7 linked regions of the Homo sapiens genome follow. The protein of the gene in region 4 purifies or fractionates together with the protein of the main gene of each other region. This does not show direct contact. Each region holds a gene or a part of one and is shown on either strand. Other genes may lie near its edges.

Region 1 (3,500 bases), on a different chromosome or scaffold from region 4:
ATCAGTTATGGGCACTGTGTGTGGAGTCTTGGGCTGCTTTCTGCCTGGAGGGAATATCCCGTCAAGGAATCATTAGGCAGATATACCAGGTATACAAGAGCTCTGTGCCAGCTGAGCATCCTGGTGCGGGGAAGTCTGAAACGGAGAGGAAAGTAGAGCCTGATGACATAAATCTGGGCAGGCTTCCTGGAGCAGGTGAGCTAGGGCAGGTTAGAAGACTCAGAGGACTGTGGGCTGGTGTCTGGGTGGGAAGGAACAGCCTGTGCAGCAGCTTTGAGACGAGAGCAGGAGGAACAGAAGTGGGTGATGACAAGCAGGCTTGCTGGTGAGAGCTAGTGAGAATAAGCAAGTGATGAGGCTGGAGGGTAGGTGGGCAGTCGGCTGAGGACATGGCTGAGATGGGGGTCTGCTTTCAGCCTTCCCGGCTTCAGCTGAGCCACCGCTGGTACAGTCAGCCACCGCAAGTAGGTACAACACAGATGCAGAATTTGTTCCCATGTCCCTTGCCTACTCCCACCCCACCCCAGAAACATGGGCTCCTGCCCCGTTACTGCTAGGGTAAGCATTTGCTTTTTATATCTAGTTGGGCTCCCCCTGCTATGTGGTTTTGTTTGTTTGTTTGGGACAGAGTCTCACTCTGTCACCCAGGCTGGAGTACAATGGCGCGATCTCGGCTCACTGCAACCTCTGCCTCCTGGGTTCAAGCAATTCTCCTGCCTCAGCCTCCTGAGTATCTGGGACCTCCTGAGTAGCTGAGATTACAGGCACCCACCACCACGCCCAACTAATTTTTGTATTTTTAGTAGAGACGGGGTTTCACCATGTTGGTCAGTCTGATCTCGAACTCCTGACCTCGTGATCCACCCGCCTCAGCCTCCCAAAGTTCTGGGACTACAGGCGTGAGCCACTGCGCCCGGCCCCCTGCTATGTTTTAAAGTCCGTTTATTCTTTGTGGAGACTGAATAGATTGTCATCCACATCTCAGTGTTTTCTGAACACCTACTATGTGTAAGGCATTGTAATAAATACAAATATGAATATGCCAGTAGCTCATGCCTGTAATCCCAGTGCTCTAGAAGGCTGAGATGGAGGATCACTTGAGGCCAGGAATTTGAGACCAGCCTGGACAACACAGCAAGACCCCATCTCTACACACAAACAAAAATTAGCCAGGCATAGTTGTGAGCACCTGTGGTCTCAGCTATTTGGGAGGTTGAGGTGGGAGGATCGCTTGAGCCCAGGAGTTCGAGGCTACAGTGAGCTATGATCGTGCCACTGCTCTCCAGTGTAGGCGACAGAGAGTCTGTCTCTTAAAAAAAAAAAAAAAAAGACTATCCCTTCTTGCCCTGTAAAGCCATTTCCTCCTTCTCCAGGCCCCAGCTTTCATTTTTTAGCTAAATAAAATTCATTCCCATGTGTATGTGCATTCAGGTGTGTATGGTATTTCTGGGCTTAGGGTGTGTGGGTGGAATGAGACACCAGCAAGTGTGTTTTAGTGCTTAGCTGTTTATAAGTGAGTGTGTTGCCTGGGGGCATAGCAGGCATTTGGGTGTAATGGTTGAGCCAAGTGGGTGATGAGTAGCTAGAGGCCCTAGGACCAGAGAAGAGACTGACTCAGTGGGGCTCTGGGGTCTCAGAGTGGAGAGCTGCCCAGGCCCTTCTATCTCTGCCTTCCGGTCCCCCACCCCGACTCACCCTGTCTCCAGCATGGGGCAGTGGGTGATGATGTCACTGGTTAACGTGGCTCAGCTGGATTTCCTGGGGTGGGGCCCCCCAGGCTACCCACAGCAGCCCAGAGAGTTGGGCGGGAAGAATGCTTTGTGTTGGATGTTGCCATGGGGATAGCAGGTCTGCGCGCCCAAGCAGCCATGGGGCTCAGTGGGAGGGGGACTAGGTGGCCCACTGACCCAGTTTACCCACTCCCCCCCACCCCCGCCAACTCCCTGCTGCTGTGGGGGAGTGGGGAACACAGCCATGGTTGCGATTATCGTGGTGTTGAGGTGTAGAGGCTGAGGGGGCAGGGGGATGATTTTTGTGGGTCTCAGGATGCTCTGGGCCCTGTAGAAAAGTATGAAAAAGACAACATAGGGTTCCCGCGCAGGCAGCACAGACTCTGGGGGAAGGGAGCAGGAGCGGTGGCTTGGGCAGGGAAAGGTGCACAAACATTAAGAGGTGTGCCGTGCATCAGCGACAGAAGGTTTTGGGAAAGGATGCAAAGAGAACTGCAAATCTCATCCCCTGAGCCCTGAAGGAGTGATTGGCCCACACGTGACATACCTGGCTCAGCACCCTTATGCCAGTTGGAAAGGAGAGCCTTTCTTGGTGGGTGGTGCAGGAATATGCAGGCTGAATTGCAGCCCCAGGCTGGGTCCTGACTGTGTCCCTCTCCACAGACGGCGTACACAGCGTGACCGCCCAGTGCGCGCTGCGTGTGACCATCATCACCGATGAGATGCTCACCCACAGCATCACGCTGCGCCTGGAGGACATGTCACCCGAGCGCTTCCTGTCACCACTGCTAGGCCTCTTCATCCAGGCGGTGGCCGCCACGCTGGCCACGCCACCGGACCACGTGGTGGTCTTCAACGTACAGCGGGACACCGACGCCCCCGGGGGCCACATCCTCAACGTGAGCCTGTCGGTGGGCCAGCCGCCAGGGCCCGGGGGCGGGCCGCCCTTCCTGCCCTCTGAGGACCTGCAGGAGCGCCTATACCTCAACCGCAGCCTGCTGACGGCCATCTCGGCACAGCGCGTGCTGCCCTTCGACGACAACATCTGCCTGCGGGAGCCCTGCGAGAACTACATGCGCTGCGTGTCGGTGCTGCGCTTCGACTCCTCCGCGCCCTTCATCGCCTCCTCCTCCGTGCTCTTCCGGCCCATCCACCCCGTCGGAGGGCTGCGCTGCCGCTGCCCGCCCGGCTTCACGGGTGACTACTGCGAGACCGAGGTGGACCTCTGCTACTCGCGGCCCTGTGGCCCCCACGGGCGCTGCCGCAGCCGCGAGGGCGGCTACACCTGCCTCTGTCGTGATGGCTACACGGGTGAGCCAAGGGAGGGGACTCATGGGCCAGCCCTGGAAGGCTGACTGTGTGGTGCAGGCACAAATCAGGACAAATGCTGGCGGCTGCCTCATTCTCTTCCCGAGTGAGGTGCAGCTACACTGAGAGGTCATAAATCCGGCCTGCTCCCTGACAGCACCCCACTGAGGAAGGCAGTGCAAGGAGTGCTTCTCCCTGCTGTGCACAGGACACACAGGCAGTGCCATTGTGGGCAGAGCTGGCTCCAGAGCCAGTCGGCCTGTGTTCGTGTATCAGCTTTGCCGCTAGTAGCTGTGTGACCTTGAACAAGTTACTTAACCTTTCTGGCCCTCGGTTATTTGAAATGGAGATAATGACCGTACTTAGGTCATAAGTTGGTTGTGAGGATTAATGTAATTAATTTGATACTTGGAAACAGCTGGTGGCATGGAAGGTGTTGGCCTTGATTTAAGGGAACGCTGA
Region 2 (3,500 bases), on a different chromosome or scaffold from region 4:
GTTCAACTCAGAGTCATCCGTCAATGGACAGTTTTCTTCTATTCTAAATATCCATTTTCAAAAGAAAGCAACACAGCAGTTTTTCCACTAAGGCTTATATGGTACACAAGGCGTAGAATCAAATCACATTATTTGCATATACAGGTGATTTTTCCTTCGAAAATATTCTATATTGCGTAATTACACATTCAAATCATTCTAAACCAGCCCTGTCCTGTTATGATGCATGTGATTTAGAGGAAATTACACATCTTACCAAACATGACTGCAAATCAGCTTGCAGTTATAATAGAGCCAGCAAGATATTTATGTCCAATAACCACAGAAGCTCTAGGATAATGGCCAAAGAAATGAGACATGGGAGCCATATGAAGGGGCACAGGAGTCAGAGTCCTGTTCAGGTGTTCAAGATACACGAGCTACCTTGTCCAGTGCCACCAAAGGAATCAGAAACATCTAATGAACTACTGATTTGGCTACCCTTCATGTGTGAAGCTGCTGCTGCTGCTGCTGCTGCTGCTGCTTCCTTCAGGACTGGCCTGTGTGTGTGGACATTTCACTGAAAAGGACAATGGAGAAGTAGCTAACTTCCTTGACTTCACCAGAGGGGCTTGGGCAAGGCTCCTCTATGCTCCCATAATATCCTGTTTCTCTCTCTACCACTGCACTAACCTACTGCAGTGTAATGCCTCTATGTCTCTCGCTAACCACCTGTATCATAATGCCTCTTTTTGTGTCTATTTCCATCATTAGTTGACAGATTAAGGGCATGGACTAGGCTTTAGTCACCTGTGATTGCCAGTTTAATCTAACCCCACTTTGGGAGGCCGAGGCGGGTGGATCACGAGGTCAGGAAATCGAGACCATCCTGGCTAACATGGTGAAACCCCGTCTCTACTAAAAATACAAAAAAAATTAGCCGGGTGTCGTGGCAGGCGTCTGTAGACCCAGCTACTCAGGAGGCTGAGGCAGGAGAATGGCGTGAACCCGGTAGGCAGAGGTTGCAGTGAGCAGAGATCACGCCACTGCACTCCAGCCTGGGTGACTGAGCAAGACTCCATCTCAAAATATAAAAAATAAATAAATAAAATCTAACCCAAGACCCTTCATAGAGCAGAAGCTCCCCAAAATTTTGTTGGATATATGCGAAAATGAATAATGCAGGACAGGCACAGTAGCTCACATCTGTAATTCCAGAACTTTGGGAAGCCAAGGTGGGAGGATCACTTGAGGCCAGGAGTTCAAGACCAGCCTGGCCAACAGAGTGAGACTCCATCCCTACAAAAAATTACAAAATTAGCAGGGTGTGATGGTATGTGTGTGTAGTCTCAGCTACTCAAGAGGACTGCTTGAGCCCAGGAGTTTGAGGTTACAGTGAACTATGATCACATCACTGCACTCCAGCCTAGGTGACAGAGCAAAGATCCTGTCTCTTAAGAAAAAAAAAAAAAAAAAAAGGAAGGAATTTAGTGCATTGTTGTTTTACTGCATACAAAGAAGCGTTGCTCTTTAATTCCAGCTGTAGTCAGTATTTACAACATTGCTTTATATCTTTGACACTTCTGCCCCAGCTGAGTCCTTCAGTTCCTGAACATGCCTCTGTTCTAGCTGCTGCTTTTTCTTCAATTGGAGTTGAAGCTCCAGTTCTTGCTTCTGGTATTTCTTCTGCCCTGACTGGAAGAAACCCTGCTCCTCCCTCCCTCCCAGGCCTCATCCAGCAGCTGTCTGACCAACCTGCTGGTCTGTCTGCCAAGTTCATAGTAAGTGTGCCCAGCCCAGCAGAGTTGGGCTAACTTTAAGGCAGGCACACTGGCCTTGTGCCAGGCCCTTGCTGTTAGGAAGCCTGTACTGTCCTATAATGTTAAATGGGCCTTATAAGTGCCTGGCGAAATGGCTCCCAGAGCCAGATATGCCTTCTAACAAGCAGGCATTGTTACTTAGCTGGTTTACCTGTGCAATCTTATCTCCTCCTCGAGAATGTAAACTCCTTAAGGAGTTGTGCTGGAATACGTCCTTGTAAAATCCCCTGAATACCCAGCATAGAGCTCCATGCTCAGTAAGCTTCCAATAATCATTTCTCCATTTGAGAACAACCACATCCATCAATATTTCTCAGCCCTGGCTTAACATTAACAGATGCCTTTACATGCACTATTTCCTTTAAGTCCACAGAGCAAATCTTGAGGAAGAATCACCATCCTCAATTTTACAGATAAAATCACCCAACTTGCAAATGGCAGAGCTGGAATCCAGGTCTCTACCTACCCAATGTGGGGCTCTTTCCACTCCACGATGCTGCTTGATAAAAACTTGTTGCATGAATAAATAGGCAAAAACCCGTCTCCCTGGACACAGCCACTTACTGCTCCCAGACCTCAATGCCACCATGGCTCCTCTGCACCAGACCCATGAGGAGATGATGATTAGGTTTTTGACTTTTATCCATGATGTATGATGTCTGCTGTCAGGGGAACAGTATTCAGTGACAGCTTTCCCAGAGTACTGGCAAAATTGGTTGGCACAACTTATTTAAAGATTTTTTAAAATATATTTTGTCCATTATTAAAAAGGAACAACAAAAATCATGAGTAGGCAGCCCCCACTGGAGAATTTTCCAAGAAAATCTTCAAGGTAGACGCTTTTCAAACTGTCTTCTCTATCAGCAAGTGCGAAAACTACGTCATGGGAAACTATAGTGCTAAAAGAAGCCTAGGTTTTTGTTTTTGTAAAATTACCCCCTTGCAACTCCTTATAAGCAGTAAGTGCTGCCACTTGAAATGCTGCAAAACAACAGGCCTGGTTTGAGGGCTACTTTATAATTTCTCAAACTTTAAAATCGTCTTTCGAGAATTTCAGCAGCAGAAGCAATATAAAAGTCTGAACATTGGCTTTTTACATATAAAGAGGCCTATAGAATGTTTCTCATAAAGTGAGATGGTGTCCTGAAAGGCCTGTACTATGCTCAAAATGCCAAGGTCAAATGAAAGGAGTCAATCCCTTAAGCAAGGGAAGACATTCTTTTCCAAAGAGACACAACTATCCCCCTCTCCACCCCCACCCTGACCATCTTCGTAGGAAGTCACACCTTAAAGCCTATGTGAGGCTTACCTCTGAAAAACAGATTAGCTCCACCTCTATAAAATCCATCATGCTGCAGGGAGGGCTATATAACCTACACTTTAGGTAACTAAACCCACATAATTTCAGACCCACTGAACAAATCCCAAAGGTTTACAGATGAGAATGTGGGGCTCAAAATCTTTGTTCTAAGGCCAAAAATCTAACCTGCATTCGACTTTTTTTTTTCCGACCAGTCTAACTAAATTAAAAAGAGACACTTTCTGCAATTTTCCCAGTTAGAAGCAAGTGGCAGATCAATGTACAGCTCAAGAAGCAGAATTTAAATACAGTATGTGTGTCTCCTTTCAAAAAAGGAGAGAAGCCACTTCACATTTTGCCAGACAAAACCCTGTCCACAGGAGGTCCGTTTCCACAATGAG
Region 3 (3,500 bases), on a different chromosome or scaffold from region 4:
AAAAGGGAAGACTCCCTCAGTTCCGGGAATTGCCCACCCCTTTCCCAGAAAACTCATGAATAATCCACCCCTTGTTTAGCATATCATCAAGAAGTAACAATTGTATAAGCAGCTGAGCCGTCAGTGCTACTCCTCTGCCTATGGAGTAGCCATTCTTTATTCCTTTACTTTCCTATTAAGCCTGCTTTCACTATTCCCTATGGATTCGCCTCAAATTCTTTCTTGCGTGAGTTCCCTCTCTTGGGGTCTGGATTGGACCTCCTTTCTGGTGACAGCTGTAGTTAGGATTTTTTTTTTTTTTTTTTTTTTTTTTTTTTTTTTTTTTTTTTGAGACAGGGTCTCACTCTGTCACTCAGGCTGGAATGCAATGATGCAATCGTGGCTCACTACAGCCTCAACCTCCTGTGCTCAAGCAATCCTCCCATCTCAGCCTGCCCAGTAGCTGGGACTACAGGAATGAGCCAGGACACCCAGCTTTTTTTTTTTTTTTTTCTGTAGTGACTGGGTTTCGTCATGTTGCCCAAGTTGGTCTTGAACTCCTGGGCTCAAGCCAGGATTACAGGCATGGGCCACCGTGTCCAGCAGGATTTTGTATATTGAAGACTGTGTTTTATCATATTTGGGAACCTTGATAGTCATGTTTTCTCTTTTTTTTTTTTTTTTTTTTGAGACGGAGTCCCGCTCTGTTGCCCAGGCTGCAGTGCAGTGGCATGATCTTGGCTCACTGCAATCTCCGCCTCCTGGGTTCAAGCAATTCCCCTGCCTCAGCCTCCTGAGTAGCTGGGACTACAGGCGCCCCCACATCACACCCAGCTAATTTTTTGTATTTTTAGTAGAGATGGGGTTTCACCGTGTTAGCCAGGATGATCTCGATCTCCTGACTTCATGATCCACCCGCCTCGGCCTCCCAAAGTGCTGGGATTACAGGCATGAGCCACCTCACCCACCCTTTCTCTTCTAATAAAAATAGCAATAATTTAGTATTGTTTGCTAAGAAATTATTCTGTGCCCAGTAGTGTACCAGGGACATATCTCATACGTTCATGATCTCATTTGTATGTAATCTTATAATACCTCTACAAGAGGTATTGATTTTTCCCATCTTATAAATGAAGACACTTGAGCCTCTGCCTGAGGTCACATAGCTGGTGAGTGCCATCAATCCTGGTCCCACCGACTCTGTCCCTATTTACATTTCCAGAGGACTGACGGGGGGAAACACTGCCAGCCATGCCCACACTCCTGCCTCATCTACAGGAGGAAGGGGCCACTGCTCAGCCTCGCACCCGGCTGCCTTCAGGGAAGGCTGGGGAAGGCTGAGGAAGGCTGGCTATAGTGTTCCCTACATGTGCCCTCCTGAGGTGATCCCTGGGAAGGAGATAAACAGAGAGGCCACCCATCCAATCTGGGATTTGTCACCATGGGCCATGTCTGTGTGCTTGTCTCTCGTCACCCCAGGTCAGCCCAAGAGGCAGGGACCAGGCTCCCTCAGCGTCCTCCCCAGGATCCTTGAGTCTCGAAGGAAGGGTCACTGGAAGGTGGGAAAGAAGAGGGGAGGGGAGGCACACCAGGCAAAGTGATCGTGCGTGGGCAGAAGCCTGGAGGTGGAGAAAGCTGGGGCAGGACAAGAGACCAGAGGCATGGGGGGCCGGGGAAACTAGGAAGAAGTTGGTCCTTCTTCTACAACAAAAACCAGAGCTGCGGAGGGCAGAATGCACAGTCAGAGAAAGAGAAATCAGGAGGAGTGGGAGGCTGAGGGGAGCAGAGCGCAGGTGGAAGGGTCTGCGCTGTGAGAGTGCAGAGCCAAGAGGCTGGTGCCCAGCGGCGGAAGGAGAGACGAGGGGCCAGGGGGAAGTGCAAGAAGGGAAACAACCGGTGGAATTCCACGAGGGGCCACAGTGTGCAGTTGAGGGGGTCGACCCAATCTGTTTCCTAAAGGGCTGCAGCTGGTGGACCCCGGCAGACCCCGGTGTCACAGGTGCCACTGGACAGCCCTCATCCAGCTGCCGTTTACTGGTACAACCCCTAGCTGAAGAGTGACAGATCTGCAGGGCCCAGGGTGAGCTCCAGGAGCGCGTCACCACCCCACTGGCCCACCCCACCCAGATTCACAGGACCCAGGCGTGGGAAAGCGGCCCCCTCCCATCTCACGTAGGCCTGAACAGGAAGACACGCTTCCTATCAGCAGTGCTCAGGCCTTCCAAGTCCAGGGACCCCCACTGGAGACACGGTGGGGAGGTCTCAAATAAAGAATAGGCCATGGCCATCTCTACTTCAGTTCTGCAGGAGCTCAGCAGACACCCACTGAAGGAATGAATGAATGAATGAACAACCATGTGAATCCTTGACCTCAGGGAAGCTGGAGTGCCATGCTGGGGCACCTTGAGTCACTCACTTATCAATGCCTTCTTGGAGGGGGTCCCTCAGAGATCCTGAGGACACTGCAGGCGGCTCGGTCCAGGCCTCCTGGACCCACAAGGAAGTGGCTGACCCAAGCGCCCAGACCGCTGACATGTGACAGAGGGCTGCTCGCTCCACCCTCCTCCTCAGGAGTCCTCCCGGTGGGACACATTGAGAGGTGTCCTAGAGGGCTTGGAGTTATGGGGGCGGGGAGAACACATAAGGCAGAATTTCCCAGGCTTTCCTAACACACACACACTGACAGTGCTTCATGCGATGGAAACGCTGTATGGTACTGGAGCGTTCAGGCTCCGTAACCACTCCTGGGTTCGAATCTCACTGGTAACACCTTCTAGTGGTGTGGTGGCACAGCCTTGAGTGACTCCCTTAACATCTTTAACATTTTCACGCCAGGTGTGTGCAAATCTCTGACACCTGCTCAGAGATGGGAGGTGCCGAAGAGCTACTGCCAGCACAGGACCCAGCACGGCGCCCACCACATGCACAGCGCAGCCGTGGGTGCCATCGCTCCATCCCTCTGGGGGTATGGACAGTGCAACAGGACTCCTCCTCGATGCTTAAACTGATGAGGAACTCAAATGAATATCTGCCTGAGAACTGCATGGCACTTCCGAAATCATCTCATTGAGCCAAGTCACGGTGCCCTACGTGCATCAGAAAGCCAGGATTTCTCTGGTGCGAAAAATGGGGGCCAAAACCCGGGGTTCTTCCTCCCCTCCATGTACCCTCACCTTGCCCAGGTGAACCCAGAAGAGAGCCAGGATCCCAGCACTAGCCACAGCTCGGCTGGGCACCTCCTGGGCCCTGATGACTCACAGAGAGCCAGAGGGTTGGAGCAAGGAAAACTGAGTTTTGCGTGGGGGAACAGTAAGAAGTTTCCGAACCCCACGACTCAGCAGAAGCTGGGCCAGAAGTGTAGGGAGCTGGTCTGGCTGACTCTGGTCAGAGCCCCAAGTACCCGATGCCACCCTCCCTGTCCTTTAGGCAGCACCGACCTTCCCCACAGGAAGATTTCCTGAGGTCTCCTCACCCCATGGCCTTGAGACTTGATCCCTGGAGCTCCCAGAAGCCCCTTTCCC
Region 4 (3,500 bases):
AGACTTAAAAATAGTTTCTTATACTGTAATAGGAACTGGGCTAAGGTATTTTTGTTTTGTTCCTGAGATAATTTCCTGCAAGGATTTACCATTTCCTGTTTAAATCTCTAGATAGTTTCTTGTATTGTATTATTTTGCACACAATTAAATTACATTCTTTTTTTGTTTTTTGTGTTTTGTTTTGTTTTGTTTTGTTTTTTGAGACAGAGTCTCACTCTGTTGCCCAGGCCGGAGTGCAGTGGTGCGATCTCGGCTCACTACAAGCTCTGCCTCCTGGGTTCACGCCGTTCTCCTGCCTCAGCCTCCCAAGTAGCTGGGACTACAGGTGCCCGCCACCACACCTGGCTAATTTTTTGTATTTTTAGTAGAGATGGGGTTTCACCGTCTTAGCCAGGATGGTCTCGATCTCCTGACTTCGTGATCCACCCACCTCGGCCTCCCAAAGTGCTGGAATTACATGCATGAGCCACCGTGCCTGGCCTAAATTGCATTCTTATAATTAGATCATGTTTACTCAACACACATTCTCTTGGTGGTTGACAGGAAGTTTCAACAAAATAAGATAAAAATACTGCATTTGGAGAGTAAGTCACCGCCTTTTTTTTTTAAGTTACAAATATCCCTGGTAATTACAATTTGACTCTTAAAAAAATGTGCATCTTAAGAAACTGTAACATTACAGTGCATTGTGTTAAGAACATGTCTGTTTTTGTTTGGGTATCATGTTACTCTGAAAAACACCTTAAAAAGATAATGTTTCCATCTTAAACATACACACACACACACACACACACACATACACACACACAAACACATTCCAGTGATAGCAGATTAAGTTTTAGAAAGAAATAATCTGAAGTAAGTCCTCCCTGACTATGGAAAACTAATGAGAAAACTTAAGATTACTCTGAATTAGTACCTTTGTTTCCTAGATTTTGGTTTATATTTCTCAATCCAATACCAAAACCAAAGCATGAAATAAGAGGAGTGACTGCAGTAGTGCATTTTCAGTAAGTTAGAATCCAGATAGTGTTATATATGATTAACAGTGAATACACATGGGTTTTTACAGATATTTTAAACATAAACTTTGCAGATTCTTTTAGTAATTTAACAAGACTCCTATCTTTTGTCCTATTCACTTTTATAACCATTATAAATATAAACTACTTCACTAATTCCTAACCATTTTATTCCAAAGAGCAACAAGGCCAAACTTCTGACCACTGGTGAAAGGAATGGTATGCTTTTTTTGGTTACTATGAATTAGGCATATTTTCTAAACTGATTTTGAATTCTGTAGAAATAACTTCTCTCTCCACCTTCCTGTTCACAAATCTACATATACCCTCTTAAAGTGTCAAGGTATTGAGTTCTAAACTGTGGCCAAGAATAATGAAAGTAGCTCTAGAGAGGCTTGTGACTTTTCAAATAGAATGGAAATTTGTACACATGGTGTACGTGTGAAAGGCAACTTCATTTATGGATTTTATTGAAACTAATACATTGATGTATGTAAGATAGCGTTTTGACCTAATGTGTGTACTTGCTGCTGGAACTGTAAATGAAAATAAGGAAGTGTGAGCGCTGATGAAACAAAAATGATTTTTGTGATATGAAAGCAAAGGCAAACTCCCCAAAGAACTATTCTTTAAGTAACTGTTTTACATCTCCTTTGACTTACCTCTCTGAAACCCTGTGGTTAATACAGTTCAGCAAAATAAGAAGTTTCATATCCTCTGTTGATTACTGGAGTTGGTTGCCTCTCATGAGCAATTAAAGCACCCAAGACACAGAATTTAGGGTGTGTATAATCATAATGTTAAAATGTGAAGGCTCTTCCAAGTACTGCAATTAAAATAAAAAGTTTCAGTGATTTGTAAAACAAGATTCCTGAACACAGTGAGGATCATTTAGATAGTTTTCATATGGTCAGACATCATTACTTAAACATTTTGCCCTCCAAAAACTGTGATTCCTTACTAACTTTAAAAACCTATTTAATTTTAGATTTTTCTAAAAGCTCTAAAGATGAAACCATCAGTCACAAAATTCAGATACTCTTAGGTATTGTTGTAATATATTGTCATTCTTTTGAAACCATATTCAGTAAAACAGAAGGAAAAGATATATAGGTAGATTCATAATTTAAAAAGAATCTTGAAAAATAGTAAGAGAGTAATCTAATGGGGACAAATCAGATATATAAATTGCAAGTTTAAGAGAATGTATGAAAGCATAAAATTGGTGTGGGATTGCCACTTTTTTACTGGTATTTCTTCAGAAGCCCCACACATGGGCTGCATTTTTCAAATTAACATTTTGTATTTTTTTTTTTTAATAAAGAATGGAGCAATTTTGGGCCCAGTGCAGTGGCTCATGCCTGTGATCCCAACACTTTGGGAGGCCAAGGTGCGTGGATTACCTGAGGTCAGGAGTTTGAGACGAGCCTGGCCAACATGGCGAAACCCCGCCTCTACTAAAAATACGAAAAAGAGCCAGATGTGGTGGCACACACCTGTAGTCCCCGCTACTTGGCAGGCTGAGGCAGGAGAATCACTTGAACCCAGGGAGGGAGAGGTTGCAGTGAGCCGAGCTCATGCTACTGCACTCCAGCCTGGATGACACAGTGATACTCCGTCTCAAAAAAAAAAAAAAAAAAAAAAAAGAAGAGTGGAGCAAATAAGATAGTAAGCATGAAGAGGGGATTTGGGGACTTCAAAGTCATTTAAAAATTTGGCTACAAAATGTAAAATAAAAGCTTCTTATTTATACAGTTCTAAGAAAATTATTAATATACAACTTAATATCTTAATAACCTGTTTAAATTAATGACAGTTTTATATAATATTTTAAATTATTATCTAAGACATAGCTCAAATACATTTTTATAAAATACTTAGAGTTAGGTAAAAATTCTTATTTTACAGTTACTTTAATTTGACTAGTAATAACCAAGTGTTGTTTTTACTTTGGTGGGATGATTATACTTAATTTTCTTACTTTTAATATGGGAAAAAAACAAACATTACAGAAAGTGTATCCTCAGTTTCAATATCAAACTATGACGAGAATTTCTTAAGAATCCTTCCAAAAAACCTATAGATAGACAGATAGATAGAGAAGCATATTTTAAAATTATGTTTTATATGCACAAACCTAAATATGTTTTTATTGTAGTAGCTCTACAACTCGAATCATATGTACTCTTTTGCACTTTATTTTTTAAATTAACATGACATTTTCTCAACAACACATAAATACAGCTTGTTTTTTTTAATAGGAAAGTATATTCCATTATATACTTTTCTATAATGTATTTAACCAATCTTGTTTGATGGACATTTGTAGTACTTCTCATTTGTTCTTGTTGTATATAATTTTATTTTGTTATTAAAAATATTTTAAATTATAGGAAAAATGAGAGGTAGGGAAAGGAAAGTAAATATACAATTCTGGTTAGCTGATTTTATAAACTAATAGTATATTTTAAAATATAA
Region 5 (3,500 bases), on a different chromosome or scaffold from region 4:
GGCCACTGCGGGCCAGAGGAGCCCTGCCACAGACCTCAAGGCCCAAGCAGAGTGCAGCAGAATTTTTTCCCCTAAACACAAAAACAGTCCCCAGATGTCCCACTGCTCTGGAGGGGCCAGGACACTGCTGAGATGCCACACTGGAAGCCGCTGGGGCAGGGACAGAGAGAGTGGAGAGAGAGGAGTGCTCAGGGGCCGCCCTCAGGGGCTCCAGGGTGGGGAGCTCAGCCTACCCTTGAAGACAGCTGCCAGGGCAGCCTGTGTAGGACGCGGAGGGGAATAAATAACGGGAACGTGCTCTCTGCGACCCGGGGCCCCTGGCCCAGTGGCTCCCAGAGGCACAGCCCTGAGGACGGAGAGGGGCTGCCCGGTCCGTCTGGAAGCCACCCAGGAGTCTGAGCAGCCTGGCCCACAGCCCCTCCATAGGAGGGAGCAGAGCCTCTCTGGGGCGAGGTGGATGTGGTGCTCCGGCCTCGGCCGCGCAGAGCACGCGGTGAATCTGAGGATGGCAGCGGTGCAGCGGGCATGGGTGCTGGAGGTGGGAGTCGGTGGCAACGGGCCCAGACCGACTTGAGCTCCTCTTGCCCGGCTACGGGCTTTTTGCCTCTTTCTCCAGCTGCCAACCGGGCCCCGGGACCCTCAGACTCTGCCGCCTGGGGGCAGCTTGGAAAGCTGGGAATGCTGACACCCCCAGCCTCTTGTCCTGGTCTCAAGGGGACAGCCCAAGCTGGCTACCCCTCCCCCTGGAGGGCCCTGGCCTCACCCCTCAGCCCCTCAGAGGTCAGCCCTTCTCCCATGAAGGCCACTGGGCAGCTCTTGCCAGGCAATGAAGGTCCTTGGCCAGCCTGAGCACCCAGTGCTGTCCCGGCCCCTGAGCAAGCAGCTGTGTGCGCAGCTGTGGTGTGGCAGGTACCATCACCTCCACACAGGAAGAGCCGGGACCCGACCGGGTGAGGCAGGGGAGGGAGGGCCGGGCAGTCGCTGCACTGCGGCGGCCCGAGCACCACCGGACACTCCACACGCATGCGGTGAGGGCTGTCCCGGTCCCTGCTCAGCTGTCCTCACGCTGCATCATGCTGGATGATCACAGCTGGGGCTCAGCTGCTCAGGGCCATCGTGTCCACCACCTGCTCCAGCTTGCTCCGCAGCCGCTGCCGCCGCGCCTGCTCATCCTTCTCCAGGGCTGCCAGGATCTGCAGGGCCAGGAGAACTGTCAGCATGCCGGGCCACCAGCCTCCATGCACTCAGCAGGCCCAGGGCAGATGCCTCCAGAGTAGGTGCCAGAGGTTCAACCCCATCTACCCCTGGCCAAAGGACCTTGGTTGTGAGCCTGGACCCTCCAGGACCCCAATATGGAGAATGAGCCCTGCCCCTGTCATCATCCTACTCTCACCCCCTAAAACAGCAGGCTCTGATCCCTTGGCTGCCTGGCCATGCTGCTGACATGTCCCCACCCAGTCCTCACACCCTGGGGTTTCTGTGCCCCTTTAAAGCAGAGCTCCCCAGAGAGCCTCAGCTCCCCTTTCCCTGGTGAGCCCCAGGACCCCAGGCTTTTGTCCCCACTCCCCACCCTAATACATGCAGTCTCTGGCTGCTCCTCTGCTCCCCTGGGGCACCTGCCTGAGGACAGCCCTCTGCCTCCTGTCTGCCTCCTGTGGCACCCTGGGGAAGGTTCCTTGCCTCTGCTGCACCTGCCCTGGCCTCCCCAGGGTGGCTCTGGTTCACTCCCGTGGCCTTCTTAGCCCTCAGAGCCTTGGCACAGGCCGAGACTGTCCTGCCCTCTGGCCCCGTGCTCCCATCCTGTGCGGCCCAGGAGCCAGTTCTCCTTCCTGGATACCTCCTGGACCCCGTCCCCAGGTCCATGTACGTGGCCTCACTCCAAGTCAGCAGAAAAGATACTGAAAGGAAAGCTCTGCCAAGAGCCTATGCCCAGCCCTGGAGATGCTGGCCCAGACTAGAAAACCCTGAAATGAGCCCCTCAGGGAAGTTGCTCACCACCCACACACCCTCTGCCTCAGGAAGAAGCTGCCATCCCATCTTCCCCACCCCTGACCCCACATGGCTGCACACAGTGACTCCACCACGGCCTTCTCTGCTCGGCCTGGCAGGCTCCCTCCTGGCCCCAAGGAACCAGGTGGCCAGAGGGTGCAGAGGAGTGAAGGTGGTCAGTGGCAGCCCAGAGATTCAGGGAGGAGTGGCAGGGCGGGGCAGAGCAGGTGACTCTGGCAGGGGCCGGCAAGCCCTCCTAGCCCAGCCTGTGGGCTCCCACGGTGTTCACCTCATCCTTGTACTTGGTGATGTAGGAGTAGATCTCGTGCAAGGCGCTCATGCTGTTGAACTGGCTCAGGTGCAGGCGGGACTGCTCAGCCAGATACGCACTCATGTCCTGGTCGCTGATGGCTGGCATCTTGGCGATGTCTGCATAGTACCTGCAGGTGAGTGGCCAGGTGGGCACATGAGCAGAGTCCAGGCTGCCCCCGGGCCCCTGCCCCCGACCCCTGCACCCTCCACCTACCTCTCCACCCAGCTCTTGTAGTTGGGGATGTCCTTGGCGTAGAGCAGCTTGTTGGAGGGTGAGTCCTTGCCCAGCTTGTGCTCAGAGGTGGAGCAGGAGTCCATGAAGGTCTGGGCCACCACCGACAAGCAGGCGTCCGTGATGCTGTTCTTGTGAATGTCGAACACAAACTGTGGGTTCTTGATCACGTTCACCCAGAAGCGCAGGGGCAGGCTGCAGGCGAGAGTCCAGGCGCTGCTCAGATAGGCCTCTGCTCCCTCCTGAGCAGTGACCTTGTGGCCCTCCCAGCTCCGAATCCAAAGTGGGCATGGCTTTCCATGCAGACGGGGAAACGAGGCCCACAGAGGTGCAGGGCCCATGGTTAAGTGAAGGCCGTCCCCTGCCACCCAACCAGAGATGTGCTGCCCCCACCACCTGCATCTCACGCAGAGCATCATGAGATAGGCGTGCTCAAACGCACTCGTTTGCACAAGGGCAAGATGTGACCAGGCCCTCAGGGGCCCACTCCACACAGCCACCACCCTCCTAGGCCTGCATGCTGGCTTGCACTCATGGCTCCTGCACTGAGACCTGCAGCTCAGCTCCGGCCCAGGGGACCCATTCCTGCAGAGACCAGCCCTCTGTGCCCCAAACACCACCTCAGGGACTGCCATTAGCTGGGCTGCCTGGCAGCACTGGCCACACGTGGCTGCTTAACTTAAATGAAGTGAAGAGCCCAGACACTCAGCCACACCAGTGCCATTTCAAAGGCTCAGGAGCCACCACCCTGGACAGCACGGGTCTAGAATGTTCCACTGTGACAGAACATTCTCCAAGAACATGCTGACCTGGAGACACTGCGTCCCTGGAGGCCCCACCTCCCGCTGTGCCCAATCAGCATGGCCCAGGAGAGGGGCTTCGTGACACTTCATTTAAATCCTAGACTCCGCGAGCAGTGGGCGGAGCTGGGACAGGTTGGGGTGGCTGCATCCCAGGTTTGGGAAGC
Region 6 (3,500 bases), on a different chromosome or scaffold from region 4:
ACTTTGGTTACAAACAAGGAGATCCCATTATGACTGTAAAGAAGGCATATTTTACTATTCCGCAGGTAATCGTTGCAATATTAGTATGCTAGACCGTTCTCTTTTTTTTTTTTTTTTTTATGAGACGGAGTCTCGCTCTTACCTCCTAGGCTCAAGTGCAGTGCCAGATCTCGGCTCACTGCAACCTCTGCCTCCCGGGTTCAAGTGATTCTCCTGCCTCAGCCTCCCCAGTAGCTGGGACTACAGGTGTGTGCCACCGCACCCAGCCAATTTTTTGTATTTTTAGTACAGACGGGGTTTCACCATGTTGACCTGGATGATCTCGATCTCTTGACCCTGTGATCCTAGTGCCTCAGCCTCCCAAAGTGCTGGGATTACAGGCATGAGCCACCATGCCTGGCCACTAGACCCTTCTTTTATTTTTCCTGTCCTATTGTTAATTTAAGTCATATTTCTCTTTAAAATCTCTTTTTAAGTTACTTACTTTCCTCCTTTCTACCTTTCAGGGACTTAACTGTTTATGTTCTCCAAATTAATAAAATATATAGTCACTCTTAATCACTGTCTTTGCTTAAAACTCAGAGTGAACTTACAAAATAAAACCAAAAGATTTTCTATAAGTTTCCATGGAAGTACCTATCATTCTTTTTCTTTTTTTTTGAGACAGAGTTTCGCTGTTTTTGCCCAGGCTGGAGTGTAATGGCACAATCTCAGCTCACCGCAACCTCTGCCTCCCGGGTTCAAGCGATTCTCCTGCCTCAGCTTTCCCAAGTAGCTGGGATTACAGGCATGCACCACCACGCCCAGCTAATTTTGTATTTTTAGTAGAGACGGGGTTTCTCCATGTTGGTCAGGCTGGTCTCGAATTCCTGACCTCAGGTGATCTGCCTGCCTCAGCCTCCCAAAGTGCTGGGATTACAGGCATGAGTCTTTTTTTTTTTTAAATTAAAAAAATTTGTTTTGGTTTGAGACATAGTCTTGCTCTGTCACCTAGGGTGGAGTGCACTGGCGTGATCTCAACTCCCTGCAGCCCTGACCTCCCACATTCAAGTGATCCTCCTACCTCAGCTTCCCAAGTAGCTGAGACTACAGGCACATGCCACCATTCCTGGCTAATTTTTTGTAGAGGTGGGGTTTTGCCATGTTGCCCAGGCTGGTCTTTTTAACTTCTGGGCTGAAGTGACCTGCCCACTTTGGCCTCCCAATGTGCTGGGATTACAGGCTTGAGCCACCGCGCCCAGCCAAAAATTTTTCTGTAGAGATGGGGGTTTCACTATGTTGCCCAGGCGGGTCTTAAACTCCTGGCCTCGAAATTCTTCTGCCTTGGCCAAAGTGTTGGGATTACAGTGTGAGCCTTGATGCCTGGCTAGCAGTAACTATCATTCTTTGCTTCTTTTTCTTTTTATATTTTTATTTTAGGTTCAGGGCTACATGAGCAGGTTTGTTATATAGGTAAACTTGTGTCATGGGGTTTTGTTGTACAGATTATTTGTCACCCAGGTACTAAGCCAAGTACCCAATAGTTTTTTTCTGATCCTCTCCCTCCTCCTACTCACTACCCTCAAGTAGGGTCCGGTATAAAAAACAATGGTTAGATAAATACATCATTTTATTTACCATTCTAGAATTTTGAAAAATATTTTAAGGCTGTAAGGTTGTATATGGAATCATTTGTATATCTATATATGAATGCACAAGTGAATGAATGACAGGGTCTTGCTCTGTCGCCCAGGCTGGAGTGTAGTGAGTGTAGTCACAGCTCACTGCAGCCTCCATCTCATGGGCTCAAGCAATCCTCCCACCTCAGCCTCCCAAGTAGCTGGGACTATAGGTGCATGCCATTATACCCGGTTAATTTTTTACTTTTTGTAGAGACAGGGTCTTGCTATGTTGCCCAGGTTGGTCTTGAACTCCTGGGCTCAAATGATTCTCCCACTACAGCCTTCCAAAATGATGGGATTACAGGTGTGAGCCACTGCTCCCAACCTGAAATCTTTTTTTAAGTTCAACATTATGAGGAGTGTTATTTGTGGGAAGAAAGCATGGGAGGTGAAAATTTCTCTTTCCTATTCATATGAATCCATTTTTATGGTATTAAACTCTGGTTGTGATGAGGGAGAGAACATGAAGTTAAATATAGTCATGTCTCTGCAAACTAAATAGAACAGGACAAGGGATTTTCTTTGTTTTTATTAGACAATATTTACTGTGACTCCACAACCAGTGGCTTCCAGACCTTGATGGGCAAATCAGTTAGATGTTTTGCTAAAGCGGGTCAACTAGTCGGTGAACTTGCCGTTGCTGAAACCAGACCAGCAATGGGAGCAGGCTGCAGAAAGACCAGTTTTAAGGGATGCTGATCTGTTTTGTATGATTAGGAGAGAGGCCATAAATCTGTTGGCTTTGCCCTTCTCCCTCAGGTGTCCCTGGCTGGGCAGTGTATGCAGAACGCCCCAGTGGCATTTCTTCACAATTTTGATGTTAAATGCGTTACTAATTTGGAACTATACCAAGAACGAGATGGTATTATCAATGCGAAGATAAAGAATGTTGCCTTAGGAGGTATGTTACATTTCTTTGAAAAAAGAACACAGGCCCAAACATGAATATAAAGTATGATCTCATGAGAGTATAAATCATTTCTACTGGTTCAACTTCAAATAATATTTGAACTGCCAATTATTTTCTTTGGAAAAAGTTTAGTTCCGTAAGACAGCATATTGCATATTAATTATTTTGAAATTGAAGTAAAATTCAAATAACATAAATTTAGCCTTTTTGTTTGTTTCTCCGTCACGCAGGTTGGAGTGCAGTGGCGTGATCTCGGCTCACTGTACCCTCTGCCTCCTAAGTTCAAGCGATTCTCCTGCCTCAGCTTCCCGAGTAGCTGGGACTACAGGTGCCTGCCACCATGACTGGCTAATTTTTGTGTTTTTGGTAAAGATGGGGTTTCACTGTGTTGGCCAGGTTGACCTTGAACTCCTGACCTCAGGTGATCCACTCTCCTAGGCCTCCCAAAGTGCTGGGATTACAGGTGTAAGCCATCGCGTCCCACCAGAATTAACCCTTTTAAAGTGTACAATTCATTGACATTAGTACCTTCCACACTGTTGTGCCACCATCACCTCTCTCTAGTTCCAGAACGTTTCATCGCCTCAGAAGGGCATCTGTACCCATTAGCAGTCACTCCCTACCCCTCTTCCCTCAGCTCCTGGCAGCCACCAATCTGCTTTCTGTCTCCGTGGATTGCTTATTCTGGGTGTTCCCTAGAAACAGAATCATACACTATGTGGCCTTTTGTGTCTGGCTTCTTTCACTGAGCATGGTGTTCCATGGTTCATCCGTGTTTGTAGTGTGTGGCAGCACTTCATTCCTTTTTATGGCTGAATCATAGTCCATTGCATGGACAGAGCACATTGTGTTTGTCCATTCCTCAGTTGATGGACATGTGGGTTGTTTTCATCTCTGACTGTTGTGAATAGTGCTGCCATGAACACTCG
Region 7 (4,155 bases), on a different chromosome or scaffold from region 4:
TCTGCTCCTTTAGAAAGGAAAAGTTTCAGCAGCTTCACGCTCCCCGCAATCGCTGCGAGGATAAAAGGCGTGGCCCCATTCTTCTTCCTCAGAACAGGGTCAGCACCATGACGAAGCAGAAGTTCCACAATGTCCTCCCTGCTCATTTGTACTGCGTTATGCAGAGGTGTCCAGCCCCCTTCCTCTTCCTGGAAATTAACATTGGCTCCACCTTCCAGCAATTGCTGGACCAGGTCAACATCTTCGTTTTGAACAGCTTTAATCAGCAAGTGATTGTCTTCCACTGCAGCCCTTCTACCGCTGGAGGACGTGGGTCCCTCCTGGGGGTTGTTATGATCCCTGCTCTCCATGACGGTAAATGCCACCTGCTACCACTTTTAGCCTTTTCCTTGAGAAAATGCAAATTTATCTCCTAGCACTTAATCAAAGAAGCTTTGAGTGTAAATTGGGATTCTCTGGCAACAGAGCAGCAGTATGAAGAAGGAACAATGTTCTCAGTCTTCTGACATTCCACCTGGCAACGAAGAGAGGTGCTTTGTAATTTTACAATAGGGAGAAAACACTTGAATCAGAGAAATTAATTATATTAGCATTTTTTCTAAATACATATATTTATTTCTTATAAAACTTTTAAATTACAGAATATTATAAATATATGTAAATTCAAAATAAGAAAATTATTTCTCTAGTCCCAATGCCCAGAAACAGCCAATGTTAATATTTTAGTGTATTTCTATATATTTTTTAAGACATTTGGAATTATACTCTGTAAGTAACTGTATCCTACTTCCTTTCATTTAATACCATACTATAAGTCATTTCCTGTGTTATTGCAAAGTCTTGTAAAACATTTTTCATGACTATGTAATATGAAATCATACAGTTGTTTCATTTCTCTATTACTGAGTGGTTTTCAAAAATAAGTTTTAAAGGGTTTTTTAAAATTAAAAATTTAAAAAATCTAAATGATGTTGCAGCAAATTCAGCTTATTTTAGTTTATTTTCTTTCGATAGATCTTATGATAGATTTCATATGATAGACTTCAAAGAATTTAATGACTATTCAAAAGATATGATTGTATTTAGGATTCTTAACCTATATTAACAAATTGCTTTCAATGTCATATAAATATATTCTTACCAGAGATAGGTGGCTTCCAAAAAAAAAAAAAAAAGACCATGAAAATATGCACATCAATTATTTATCAATAAAAAAAGAAGAACCCTCATTCAATAAGAAAAATATATTTCTTGGCTTTTTTTCCCTTTGCATTTCTTATGTCACCAGGAAGGTTGATCACTGTGTTTGCTGACTCTGTGCATGTCCTCTTTGTACAACCCTGTGCCCCTATTTAAAGTACAGACAATATCTGACTTATGTTTTTTGACTTTGATTTATGATTTTTTGACTTTGCAGTGGTGGAAAAGCAATAAACATTCAGTAGAAACCACACTTCAAGTACACATACAACCATTCTGTTTTTTATTTCAGCATAGCATTCGATAAATACATGAGACATTTAACACTTTATTATAAAATAAGCTTTGAGCTAGATGATTTTGCCCAACTGTAGCCTAATGTAAGTGTTCTGAGCACATTTAAGGTAAGCTAGGATAAGCTATGACGTTCAGTAGATTAGGTGTATTAAATGTGCTTTTGACCTACAATATTTTCAATTTAGGATGGGTTTATCTGTATGTAACCCCATCATAAGTCAAGGAGTATCTGCAGTAGTGAAAAGAGCTTGTACTCTGACCTTAGGGAGATCTAAGTTTGAGCTTGTGGCTGTGTAATTTTTTACTATTACTTCCTGTAACCTTGGATTGTTGAATCTCAATTTTCTATTTCCTGAAATGGAGACAAAAATAAATACAGTCATGTGTGTAAAGTACATTAAAGTATGGAGTGTTGCAAATATTAGCCACTCAATGAATGTTAGAGCTAATTATATCCCGTTATGAAAAAATAAATTGCTTAGTGAATTCTATTCTCCCTACACATGTGCATATAGCTACTACACGAATAGGCAACTGGCAGCTATCAATTTCGTCCAACTGTCAATCAGATCTGAGAATTACAGATCCAGTTCAATCATCAGACAGCCCGAAACTGTTACCTGAATATTTAAATAACTGCATCTGCTATAGAATTCACGAAGCAACCCTTTTTCAGCAATCTCACCACTCTGACAGTTTCAAAGCCTCAGAGGTTAATTGATTAGCCTCTTAGAAGTTTAATTAATTGTGCAACACATACACGATCACCAGGCAATGAAATCTTTGAACCAAAGTGTTTGTGTAGACCGTCCCCATTACAATCAGATGTGAGGTGGGCTGGTATAAACAAAGGAGCCGGGAAGGAGAGGAAATATCAAGGAAGCCCTGAGTGACGCATCAGAGTAGAGAAGAGACGAGCCTGCGGAAGTACTCCAACAGACAATCCTGCTTTCAATTTCACTTTCTCTGTGCGACCTGAGTAAGTCGCAAAGAGATGCCTGAGAAACTGAGGACATGGATAAATGACGTGTGGACTCTGACAGAACTCTGGAAGGGCACTGGAGGAAGATCCTTCCGGGCAGCCAAGGGCTGGGAGCTCCCCTCCCACTTCCCAAGTCCTCCAGCCCCTGGCCTCTCCAGTCTCCAAAGCCCAAGAATTCTTCAGGATCGACTTATCGAGGTTTTCTAGCTTTCCTCCTTCTGCCTGCCTTACCTGCTCAACTCAGACGTCTCAATTATTCCTTTGGCAGCCGCAAAGCCTGGAAGACTGCTTGCAGCCCGAGCAGTTTCCTCCTGCTGCGTCACTGAGTCAGCAGGGCGGAGCCAAGAAAGGAGTGAGGAGTGTGGGAGGGAAAGCAGCCACAGGCTCACTCTGGCACCAGGAGCAAAGCTTCTACTTGCACACCTTCTGGAGGAAAGCAATAGCCACTTTCTGTCTGCTGATGAGGAATGTGATGCCCGGGGTCATGTCACTCACCTCTCAGTCTTGCAGCCTTTCAGGTGGCAGCAGCCAACTGCATCCATCACTCTTGCATCCTTTCTTTGTCATTGCAAATTCTGGTCTTCTTGGAAGAAAGGAATGGAAAGTAAACACATATTGAGCACCTATTGTGTTCCAGACACAATGCTTTACATGCAGCATGGTCCCAGTTAACCCCTGACAATCTTGTTGATTATGAAACGCAGGCTCATAGAAGCTAAGTAAGCCCAAAGCCCAAGCCCTGTCACCTTTCTCAGCTCACTCAACTCACAGCTCTGAGGCAGTGCGGCCTTCTCAGAAGGGTACCGGACTGGCAGTCTGGAGACCTGATCCTACAGCCAGCTCTGTGGCTGCTTAGCTGAGTGACCTCAGGCATGTGATTTAACCATGTAGGGCCTCAGTTCTCTCCTATAACTTGGTTTTGAAGGTTCCTTTCTGCTCTACAAGTTCTGTTCTTGACTATCTTCCTAGCAATGAGCTGTGTACTGTGTACTTAGTGCTGTAGTGGAAAGTATTTCCATCCCCAAAGAATACCCAGTCTTGCTGGGGAGACAAAGCCCTGGGACTTGTGAACAACAAGTAGTGCATGGTCACTTGACGACCACCTGTGTCACACCATCCAGACCCGGGGCCTCTACCACCCCTTATACACCAGGGATTCCCAGGCCTCGCTCTCTAACCCCAGCCTCTCTGCTGAGCTTTAGACCTACAAATCTTGAATATGTGTCAAATGGAAATACTCATCTTTTCCTAAATCTGCCCCTCCTCCCACTTATTCCATCTCCACAGATGGCACCATCACCCGGAGGCCACCCCTCATCCTCATCCCAACACCAAGTCTCTTGCTTTCATCTACAAAGGGATGACCATTCGAGTCCTTGTCATCATTTATAGCAAGAAATTGATGACTTGCTTCCTAGCCCTTCATCCATTGTTCCACCCTGCATCATTGACCCACCATCATTTTCAGGACAAAGTTCAAAAATCCTTAACCCATTATTCATTTAATTAATACTTGTTGGACAGGCGTGGTGGCTCACACCTGTAATCCCAGCACTTTGGGAGGCCAAGGCAGGCAGATCACCTGAGTTCAGGAGTTCAAGACCAGCCTGGCCAACATGGTGAAACCGCGTCTCTACTAAAAATACAAAAAGTAGCCAGGTGTGGTGTTGTGCACC

What was found.
Region 1: the proteins of ST8SIA4 (region 4) and CELSR2 purify together in Homo sapiens (affinity purification with mass spectrometry; 2 studies listed by BioGRID and IntAct, with this or other methods). This does not show direct contact.
Region 2: the proteins of ST8SIA4 (region 4) and CACHD1 purify together in Homo sapiens (affinity purification with mass spectrometry; 2 studies listed by BioGRID and IntAct, with this or other methods). This does not show direct contact.
Region 3: the proteins of ST8SIA4 (region 4) and MRC2 purify together in Homo sapiens (affinity purification with mass spectrometry; 2 studies listed by BioGRID and IntAct, with this or other methods). This does not show direct contact.
Region 5: the proteins of ST8SIA4 (region 4) and PLXNA1 purify together in Homo sapiens (affinity purification with mass spectrometry; 2 studies listed by BioGRID and IntAct, with this or other methods). This does not show direct contact.
Region 6: the proteins of ST8SIA4 (region 4) and TCTN2 purify together in Homo sapiens (affinity purification with mass spectrometry; 2 studies listed by BioGRID and IntAct, with this or other methods). This does not show direct contact.
Region 7: the proteins of ST8SIA4 (region 4) and RNASEL purify together in Homo sapiens (affinity purification with mass spectrometry; 2 studies listed by BioGRID and IntAct, with this or other methods). This does not show direct contact.

The regions. Positions count from the first base shown.
Region 1 is NC_000001.11:109,256,039-109,259,538, forward strand, and holds part of CELSR2 (cadherin EGF LAG seven-pass G-type receptor 2 precursor), read left to right. Parts: intron 1-2,393; coding exon 2,394-3,041; intron 3,042-3,500. UniProt on the Homo sapiens protein: Receptor that may have an important role in cell/cell signaling during nervous system formation.
Region 2 is NC_000001.11:64,473,129-64,476,628, reverse strand, and holds part of CACHD1 (VWFA and cache domain-containing protein 1 isoform 1 precursor), read right to left. Parts: intron 1-3,500. UniProt on the Homo sapiens protein: May regulate voltage-dependent calcium channels.
Region 3 is NC_000017.11:62,630,670-62,634,169, reverse strand, and holds part of MRC2 (C-type mannose receptor 2 precursor), read right to left. Parts: intron 1-3,500. UniProt on the Homo sapiens protein: May play a role as endocytotic lectin receptor displaying calcium-dependent lectin activity. Internalizes glycosylated ligands from the extracellular space for release in an endosomal compartment via clathrin-mediated endocytosis.
Region 4 is NC_000005.10:100,851,283-100,854,782, reverse strand, and holds part of ST8SIA4 (CMP-N-acetylneuraminate-poly-alpha-2,8-sialyltransferase isoform a precursor), read left to right. Parts: intron 1-3,500. UniProt on the Homo sapiens protein: Catalyzes the transfer of a sialic acid from a CMP-linked sialic acid donor onto a terminal alpha-2,3-, alpha-2,6-, or alpha-2,8-linked sialic acid of an N-linked glycan protein acceptor through alpha-2,8-linkages.
Region 5 is NC_000003.12:127,031,615-127,035,114, reverse strand, and holds part of PLXNA1 (plexin-A1 precursor), read right to left. Parts: intron 2,729-3,500; coding exon 2,516-2,728; intron 2,430-2,515; coding exon 2,279-2,429; intron 1,194-2,278; coding exon 1,098-1,193; 3' UTR 1-1,097. UniProt on the Homo sapiens protein: Coreceptor for SEMA3A, SEMA3C, SEMA3F and SEMA6D. Necessary for signaling by class 3 semaphorins and subsequent remodeling of the cytoskeleton. Plays a role in axon guidance, invasive growth and cell migration.
Region 6 is NC_000012.12:123,688,113-123,691,612, forward strand, and holds part of TCTN2 (tectonic-2 isoform 1 precursor), read left to right. Parts: coding exon 1-65; intron 66-2,420; coding exon 2,421-2,562; intron 2,563-3,500.
Region 7 is NC_000001.11:182,586,457-182,590,611, forward strand, and holds the start of RNASEL (2-5A-dependent ribonuclease), read right to left. Parts: upstream 2,801-4,155; 5' UTR 2,711-2,800; intron 515-2,710; 5' UTR 351-514; coding exon 1-350.